Homo sapiens: one gene and its partner. The protein of the gene in region 2 purifies or fractionates together with the protein of the main gene of each other region. This does not show direct contact. Each region holds a gene or a part of one and is shown on either strand. Other genes may lie near its edges.

Region 1 (5,000 bases), on a different chromosome or scaffold from region 2:
AATGCCATACACTTTAAAATCTAATCTGCTTGCCCTCTGATTTGGAGAGAATTAACCCAGAAATTATCCAGGTTCTTTAGGGCTCCAAGACATTCTAAAAAATAAAGGTGAACGTTGAATTTAACCAGTTGACAGTTGTTCTTGGATTATGATCAATCAGCCTGTGGCAGCAGGGCACATGCTGAGAACAAGCCTCAGGTTCTCTAAGTTCTCCCACCACCACAATGTTCAGCTATAGTGAACTCATAGAAACCGTGTGTCGGGGCCTCCAACTTCGCCAAGCACCATAAGAAGTTTGAGTTGTGAAAAAATTTTCTCTACTCAAAATTGTGAAGAGAAACGGCAAGGTTTAAATTACCACATATTTGTCTTTGAAGAACTTTACAACAACTTCATTGACTGTTAAATTTAGATTCATAAAAATCTAAACAACGGCCGGGCGCGGTGGCTCAGGCCTGTAATCCCAGCACTTTGGGAGGACGAGGTGGGCGGATCACCTGAGGTCAGGAGTTCAAGAACAGCTTGGCCAACGTGGTGAAACCCCGTCTCTACTAAAAATACAAAAATTAGCTGGGCGTGGTGGCGGGCGCCTGTAATCCCAGCTACTCGGGAGGCTGAGGCAGGAGAATCACTTGAACCCAAGAGGCAGAGGTTGTTGTGAGCAGAGATCGCCATTGCACTCCAGCCTGGGCGACAAGAGTGAAACTCTGTCTCAAAAAAAAAAAAAACAAAAACAAAAACTAAATGACATTTGAAAGCAATTTGTAGATTTTCACACTTCCTAAGAATTCTCAAAGATGCCAAAAACAAAAATCGCAGCCACTAGCAATTTAAATGACTTCCTCGTAGCCAAATAAATCCTAAGGTAAAATTATAAACATTCCCTTAAATTCAAATTTTATAACAAAAAGAAAGATAATAGGGAACGGAGGGTGAATTATTGTGTTTGATATATTTGGCGGTGAAAAATACATATATTACGTGCTGTTTAGGGTCCACTGAGAGTCATAAAACTGACCCTAGTGACCGAGCTACCGGAAGGACTTGGCAAGGGTCTAGCGAGCTCGGTTATCTGCGTTTTCCAGGTGGGGCAGCCCAAGACCCTTCTCAGACCCAGAGAAGCTGGGTTTCCGCCCAAAGCCCGGCCCCAAACCACCGATTTCCGACCTTTCAACCTACTTTGGCAGAGCAAGAGTTTCCGCGGGAGACTCCCTGCTTCCCTCTGCCCAGGTCCCCTGAGGCCGAGTGCGGTACTGAGTGCTGAGTAAGGGGTGCCGAGTGCCAAGCACTGAGTAACTGGGGGAGGGGAACCATGCAGCTGTCATAAATAATTAGCTCCTGTGAGGAACAGGAACTCCGAGACTGCGGCCGGGCCAGGTGGGCAGAGGTCGCAGCGCCCTCGCCGCGTTCCCCGTCCCCATCCGACGCCAGGACAGCGCCTCCTTAACTGGGGTAGCCCCTGAGAGCGTGGGCGGAGCCCCGCCCCGCGACCTCAAGGCCCCGCCCCCTCAGCGCCTCCCGGCCCAGCAGCTCGGAAGACCGCGAGGCGCGCTTTTCTGACGCATCGGCGCCTTTCGTCTGACGTATGCCTGCACCGCCCCCTCCCCTCCCTGCCCCGCCCCCGCCCCGCCCCCGACTGCGCGGCGCCCGCCCTCCCTTAGTCAGAGCTGCTCGTCTGAGGCTGCTGAGGCGACGGCCGGTGTCGTGGTCGCGGTACCTGTTCCAACACGGCTCGCGGGCCCGTGCCGGCTCCGGTCCCCGGCGCGGCTGTCCGAGCCCCTGCGGCGGGCGGACGATGGTGTGGCGGAGCACGCGGACGCGGGCGGCGCGGCGGCGGGCATGAAGGAGGATGGAAGGGCAGGACGAGGTGTCGGCGCGGGAGCAGCACTTCCACAGCCAAGTGCGGGAGTCCACGGTGCGTGGGGACCGAGGCAGCCCTGACAGTCCCGCGTGCCCGCCCGGGCCCTCCGTCCCCGCCCCCGGGCCCCCGGTCCCCGGACCCCTCACCTCCGGGCCTCGCCTCGCGCCTCCCGCCCCGGCCTCTGCCGCTCTCCCTCCCCACCCCTCCTCTCCCCTCCCCTCCCCTTCCCTCCCCACCTCTCCTCTCCCCTCCCCTCCCCTTCGCTTCCTCTGCCTGCCCCCCCGCTCCGCTCTTGCCTCCCCTGCCCCCTCGCGCTCCCTCCGTTCGAGCCCCGACCCCGCCCCCGCCCCGCGGCCTCGGTGCTGCCCTTCCCTTCCCGCGGGGAGGGCTGCGGTGCGCGCCGCGCTCTGGGACCCCAGGGGCTTCCTCTCTGGGCGGGTGTGCGGCTCGCGCCTCGGGGTGTGGACGGCGGCCCCGCCAGTGCGCGCCCCCGCGCTCCGCCGCCAGGCCAGGTAGGCAGGTGGATGCGCAGGCGTCCCGGAGAGCCTGGGTGGGCCCGGCGGGTCCGGGAAGGGCCGGGCTGCGCGGAGCCCGCCCGCCTCTCGCGTTTGGACCCGGCCGGTTACCTTGTCCCGGTCAACACCTCCTGCCCTCCTGGCGCCTCACGTTTCCATCCCTCTTTCATCTCCCCCAGCCCCCACGTGGGTTGAGTTCGAAACCTTACCGTTTGGGATGAGAATATTGGTTATTTTTGGGAGTGAGGACCTCAGCAAAAGTCCATTTTGCTATGGAAGCAACTTCTTAGGGAAGCAGCTTCTTTTTTGGCCCATGTTCCATGTGTGCTGTTGGCAGGAGTCAGGAAGCGGACTTGACCTTGGAAAGTCTACTTTGATGTTTTTATCTTTTCATGATGCTCTAGAATGTATTGTAATTGGGTTTATCTGTGTTTTCATAACTGTTGTAAAATATGTCAATTTTTTATGTTTATATTTACGCCTCTCCTAAGTTGTCTACGATTCAGTCACACTTGGTTTGAGGTGAAAAAATTCTGCTTTAGAATTATCTAATTTGTGTACTCACTGATCTTGAAAATTGAGAATCACTTTGGAAGTCATACTTTGAATAAAGAGGACATATAAAGTCTGAGCTGGTGGAATTTGAGTTAGTGGAATTTGGTACACATTTAGTTGTAATTTTTATAATTGAAGCTAAAATACACAGAGATAAGTTCATGTAATCATACATGTACCCTTCAGATCATTTCATACTAAACACGCCTGTGTACTCCTGAATCCACCAGGAGTTTGAGACTGGTCAGCCTGGGCAACATAGTGAATCCCCATCTCTACCATTATAAAAAAATAAATAAATAAACACAATTTTACTAGGATCCCAGAGACTGATTCCTTTCCCTCTTCCAATTACTTTCTCCTCCACCAAGGGTAAACGTTGCCCTGGCTTCTAATATCATAGATTAGTTTTTGCTTAGTTTTGAACTTTATGTAAATGGAATCTTACCGTATATACTCTTCTGTGTCCAGTTTCTTGTACAATGTTTGTGAAATTTCTCCATGTTGTATGTGGTTATAATTCATTCTCGGTGCAGTAGTTGTGTGACTATAGCACAATTTATTTTTCATTTTACTGTTGATGGGCACTTCAGTAGTTTCTAGGTTTTGGCTATGAATATATATATGTGTATATATATGTGTATGTATATATGTGTGTGTGTGTGTGTGTGTGTGTGTATATATATATATATATATATATTTTTTTTTTTTTTTTTTTTTTGTGATGGAGTCTCGCTCTGTCTCCCAGGCTGGAGTGCAGTGGCACAATCTCGGCTCACTGCAACCTCTGCCTCCGGGATTCAAGTGATTCTCCTACCTCAGCCTCCTGAATAGCTGGGATTACAGGCACACACCACCACACCCAGCTAATTTTTCTATTTTTATTAGAGACGGGGTTTCTCCATGCTGGCCAGGCTGGCCTTGAACTCCTGACCTCAGGTGATCCACCTGCCTTGGCCTCCCAAAGTGCTGGGATTACAGGCATGAGCCACCACGCCGGGCTGGCTATGAACTTTTTGTACATAGCTTTTGGTGGACATGTTTGTGCATTTCTGTTGGGGATAGCCCTAGGAATGGAATCCCTAGGTTAAAGAGTGTGCATTTGTTCATCTTTAGTAGATACTTTAAAACAATTTTCCAAAGTGGTTGTACCAGTGTACACTTCCGCCAGTACTGACAGTCTCAGAGGTGTGGTTGTTACTCATCTTTATCAATACTTGATATTTTCTGTCCTTTTTAATTTTAGTCATTCTAGCAAGTGTGTTATAGTGTTCATCATACAAATAATTTTAATTTGCATTTTCCTGATAACTAATGAATTTGAGCACCTGTTTGTTTATTAGCCATTTGGAAATCTTGTGAAGGGTCAAATTTTTTTCCCCATTTAAAAATTAAGTTTATCTTTTTAATATTGATTTGCAAGGTCTTTACAGAATAACTTGTATTATATTGTTATACAGGTGGATATGATTTCTTTGTCAGAAATATATACTGCACATATTTCTTTCCCACTCTGTGGATGCCTTTCACTTTTAATGATATCTTCTGATGAACAGAAATTATTAATTTTAATATAGTTCAATTTATTAAAATTTTTTTGAGTACTTTTAATGTCCCGATTAAGAAATCTCTCCTTACTCTAAGACTGATGTTCTCTTCTTCTTTTCTCTAAATGCTTTATTGAATTACTCTTCTCATTTAAATTTGCAATCTATTTCGAATTTATTTTTTTGTGTCTGGTGCAAGGTAGGAGTCATATTTTTTTCTCCCACAGGAATGTCCAATTGCTTCAGCACTATTTAGGACTTTTGTCACAGATAGGTAACTGTATATTCATAGGGTTTAATTTTGGACTTTATGTGGTTTTATTGGTCTATTTGTCTTTAGTTTTATTATTTTTTAAAATTTGAGACAGGTTCTCCCTCTGTTGACCAGGCTGTCGTGCAGTGGCGCAATCATGGCTCACTGCAGCCTTGACTTCCAAGGCTCAGGCGATCCTCCCACCTCAGCTTCCCAAGTAGCTGGGACTACAGGCTTGAATCATACAGGTGTGCACTAACAGACCCAGC
Region 2 (4,270 bases):
TGATTTGATATGTCAAGAAGCAGCTTTTGTAAAGCTGCCCCAGAAGGATGGATCCCAGTTGCACAAGATGTCAAAGGCTGTGTGAACATGGAGATAACTGGCTCTATGTGGATGTCTCTCATTTCCACATTGTTCAGATCCTCTGCCAGAGCAACATATTGAGAGTCTTGACTTTTCATTGCAAAATATTCGTGGTAACTTCATGCAGAAATAAGATGTGTTTATTTTTCATTGTTGTCCTCAATAAGGGGTGGTTGCTTAGGGTAGACAAAATTAGTAATCAACAGAGTTACCGGCTTCTATCACTGTTGTTCTCACAGATCTGCTTTGTGCCACATGCTAAGTGGAGACGTGATTTACGTGGCATATTATCCACGGCATCAACTCCCTGCTATGCACGTCAAAAGCGTCTATGGCAAGCCATTGGACTGTACCTCTTACTTCTTTCCCTTACTCCATCTCTCTCATACATACATCTCCCTGCATTCTTGTTTCTGCTTAAGAGACGAGGTACAGTGATATATGGAAATGTCTGTGTGTGCATAATGGCGGAGCTGTTATCCTGAAGCTACATGGTGCCAAGCCTTGGCTCATGCACAAATATCACTTTTAGGGCTTCCACTCTGTTCAAAATTATAACCCATCTCCCTATGGACAACACTCTATGGCATACATGTAATCTCATGAATCATTAAATAATATAATTATTAAATTCTATACTTATCTATTTTGTCATCTAGTAATCAGGGGTTATTTTCAGTCTCCCAACATGGAGACAATGTTTTAACTATTTTGCCATTCTAACAAATGTAAATATCCTATGTACAGATTAATTTACTTGGCTAAGTTTTTGTTTTTCTTGAAAATTTAGGATATCAGATAATGTAATTTATTGACAAGAATGAATCCACCAGCAGTATGGGTTATAAGCTTGGGTATATGAAAAAATCTGCTAACTCCTTTCCCTTCCTCCTTCCTGCTTTTGTCAATCTTCTACTGCAATTAGTAATATTATCCTTATTTTGAACAACTAAAAATCAGTTATCCTTTGATAATCTTAGAAATAGTTTTTTCTTCAACATTAGCATTTGCAAGGCCATTGTGTTTCAAAACCAAGAAGGCAACTGGCATTCATTGGCTTGCCTTGGTTCCTTCTGCCTTGCATTTTACTTTCTTAGATTGCTGAGTTTCTTTTATCATCAGGTTGTGTGTGTGTGTGTGTGTGTGTGTGTGTGTGTGTGTGTGAGTGTATGTAAGCAAGGGCTATAGGAACTTCTTTTCATCTTTTGGGTTATTTCTGTTAGATGCAACATATATAATTCTAGGCCTAACTCATTTTTCAAACTAGGATCTGTAAATGCTTCAGCAGCAGCAATTCGGTGACTACATTCAGTCTCTCTGAGAATGTTATTTAGGGCAAAGTATGTTCCTTGGGGGTAGTGATAGCATTTTGACAGAGCTGAGCCATGCATTTTGGGAATTAGTAGGAAGGAGGTGAAGTATGGCCAAAGTGTGGAGGGCCTTGATTGCTAAACATGGGGGAAAAGGGGGACAGGTGGGAGCTCCTGGGTGCTTTTTTAGAAGCAGTGGCACTTGACAGATGGAAGCAAAGTCCCGGATATGTTATGGGGAAGAAGCTCTGAAGATAGGGAGATCAATTAAGAAATTAAGAAATTTCTGAAAATTTAGGGGTGGAATGACCCCATCCCACCTTCCATGCCACAGGCCATCCAGAGCCACCAAGCATCAGCTACACAGGTTAATGACATCCGAAACAGCCCAGCTGTTTGATACCTGTTATGTTACTTTTCAGTTGTGTTTTATATTACATTGCTCTATGAAACCGTTTCAGTACAATCTTTTTCAAAGTGAGAGAAAGGGAATAAAACGTTAATAGGAAGAATACTTTATAGTGCCTTCTTCTTCTTCTTGTAACATTATTACAGTCTTATCAGTAATTCTAGCTTGCCTCAGATATTAATACAATCTTTAAATAGTCTACTTCCACTTATGCTGACTCTGATATGACTCAAAGCAATGTTGTCTGTCTGGAGACACCTTAGAACTGAGCATAAAAGCAACTAAGAGTGGATGATGAGAAATTTCATAGTGGGTACAATGTATATTATTTTTGTGATGGATACCCTAAAAGCCTTGACTTCACCACTATGCAATATATACATGTAACAAAACTACACTTGCACCCCATAAATTTATACAAATTAAAAAAGAAAAGCAATTAATATAATTGTTAAACACAAAAATAGGTGTGATTCAAAACTCATCTTTCTTTGAAGAGCATATTAGATACTTTCAACTATTTATTCTTCTTTCAACCTAATCCTTCTAATAGGGAAATAAAGAAGGCTCACACATCCCTTTAACTGAATATTCTCCAATTGTATGCATTATTTTCATAGCTACATAAATGTAATGGTAAAGTGAGATGGACAGCTGCTACCTTGCCCTGCAATACAGAGGTAGTGAACTTGATATGGTTAGAGGAATCTATAGGTTTAATATGTGACAGACTCCCACAGAATTTTACTATGGGAGGCAGCTATGGGGGAAAGGGATGGGGGCCTGTGACTCACATTGCTTGGAAGGATCTCTTGAGTATCCTGCTTAGAAGTCAGAAGAATAGCAACATGTATGATCTCATGACCTAGAGAAGAGGATGACAGAAAGATGTGGCGATTGCTCCTAAATACTGTGAGCCTTTTTAGCACACTCCAGTGCTTTTTTCTCTTTTCCTCTGGAAAAAGATTGAAATAACTAAAGAGTATTTGTTTTTTTAGCCTAAAGGTTTACTTTCTAAAATTAATGATAGTTAAATGACTCATTACGAGTTTTGGAAAAACAGGAATTACACAAATGTACTCCTACCTATGATGTAAAAGTACCAGTCAAACTGTCCACATTATTTAGAACTACAGTAAGGTATACAAAGTATTGGATTCCCAGGAGGGGAGAACAATATGGTCAAATAAGAATATGTTAATTTTTATTCATTGCTAGGTGAATGTAAAGCAAAGTTTTATTTGCATTTTTACCAAATCTGGAGACATTCCAGATGGTCTGACTTAAAACGTTGCCATGGAATAGAAATGATGTTTAGTCTGGTGATTGGCAGTAGCACCGCAAAGAGATAAGCAGGTATCCTTCCCAGCAGTTGTGGATATTGATTGGCTAAGAAGCTGCTTTGCACATGGCAAGTCTACATAGTGTGCTTCAGGGTGAACAGCAGCAGGGAGTTATAAATGCAGAGATGGATAATTATTTTCTTGAGCCATGATGGGTTGGTTCACTAGTTCATAAGTTTGAATAATCAATGTTTGATACTCCACACTCTGATGGCTGAAGAGTCAAAATTTGAATTTTCCAATTTATCATTAAGGAGAAATGTCAGGAGAAAGTCAAGTGGTTGTGTGCACATAGTATATCATAAAGAGAAAACTTTTTAAAAGAAAAGATTAAAGTTATGTAGCATATGCTAAACATTTTAAATCAATTACACATTTTCAATTTTGCATCATAGTTTAGTTCTAAATTCCTATTTTAAGCTCTAATAGAAAACACATGTATTTATGCTATCCTGTGGAAAGAGATGGTAATTTTTTGATTGTTTGTTCTCTAATCTCTTCAATTTTGGAAACAGTGTACTGGTGTAATTTTGGGAAGTTTTTATTTGCAATGTCAAAATTGTAACCATTGTTTTCATCTATATTATCAGACCACTGATTTTTCTGCTAGGGTAATATAATTTAACCACAGCTTAAGTGTACTTATTGGAAACTGAGAGATTACTGTTTTACTTAAAATGTGTTGTATCTTCAATTGACAAAACTTGCCATTTAAAGTAATATTTCAGAATATTACCTCTTAGAATAGTTGCTTTCTATGCATAATACATAGAAGGAAAAAACAAGGCTGAGGAAAATACTCTTCTTGGGTTTAGAATAAACACATTTCATAAAATCTGGCATAGATCAGGCCATTTCATTTGAATTTTAGTATATCTGAATTCTTGCAGCAATTTTTCCCTCCCAACAACTAGACCAAATATGGAATATGTAATTCCTTCGGCTTTAGTTTGTTTTGGGTCTAAGTAGTCTCTGATATAGTTTGGATGTTTGTCCCCTCCAAATCTCATGTTGAAATGTAATCCCCAATGTTGGAGGTAGGAACTGGTGGGAGGTGTCTGGCTCATGGGGGCAGATCTCCCATGAATGGCTTGGTGCTGTCCTTGCATTAGTGAGTGATTCTCGAG

Evidence for each region. The genes of interacting proteins can lie anywhere in the genome.
Region 1: the proteins of EDNRA (region 2) and LMBR1 purify together in Homo sapiens (affinity purification with mass spectrometry; 2 studies listed by BioGRID and IntAct, with this or other methods). This does not show direct contact.

Annotation. Positions count from the first base shown.
Region 1 is NC_000007.14:156,889,843-156,894,842, reverse strand, and holds the start of LMBR1 (limb region 1 protein homolog), read left to right. Parts: upstream 1-1,659; 5' UTR 1,660-1,839; coding exon of another isoform or gene 1,840-1,849; coding exon 1,850-1,915; intron 1,916-5,000. UniProt on the Homo sapiens protein: Putative membrane receptor.
Region 2 is NC_000004.12:147,487,123-147,491,392, reverse strand, and holds part of EDNRA (endothelin-1 receptor isoform a precursor), read right to left. Parts: intron 1-4,270. UniProt on the Homo sapiens protein: Receptor for endothelin-1. Mediates its action by association with G proteins that activate a phosphatidylinositol-calcium second messenger system. The rank order of binding affinities for ET-A is: ET1 > ET2 >> ET3.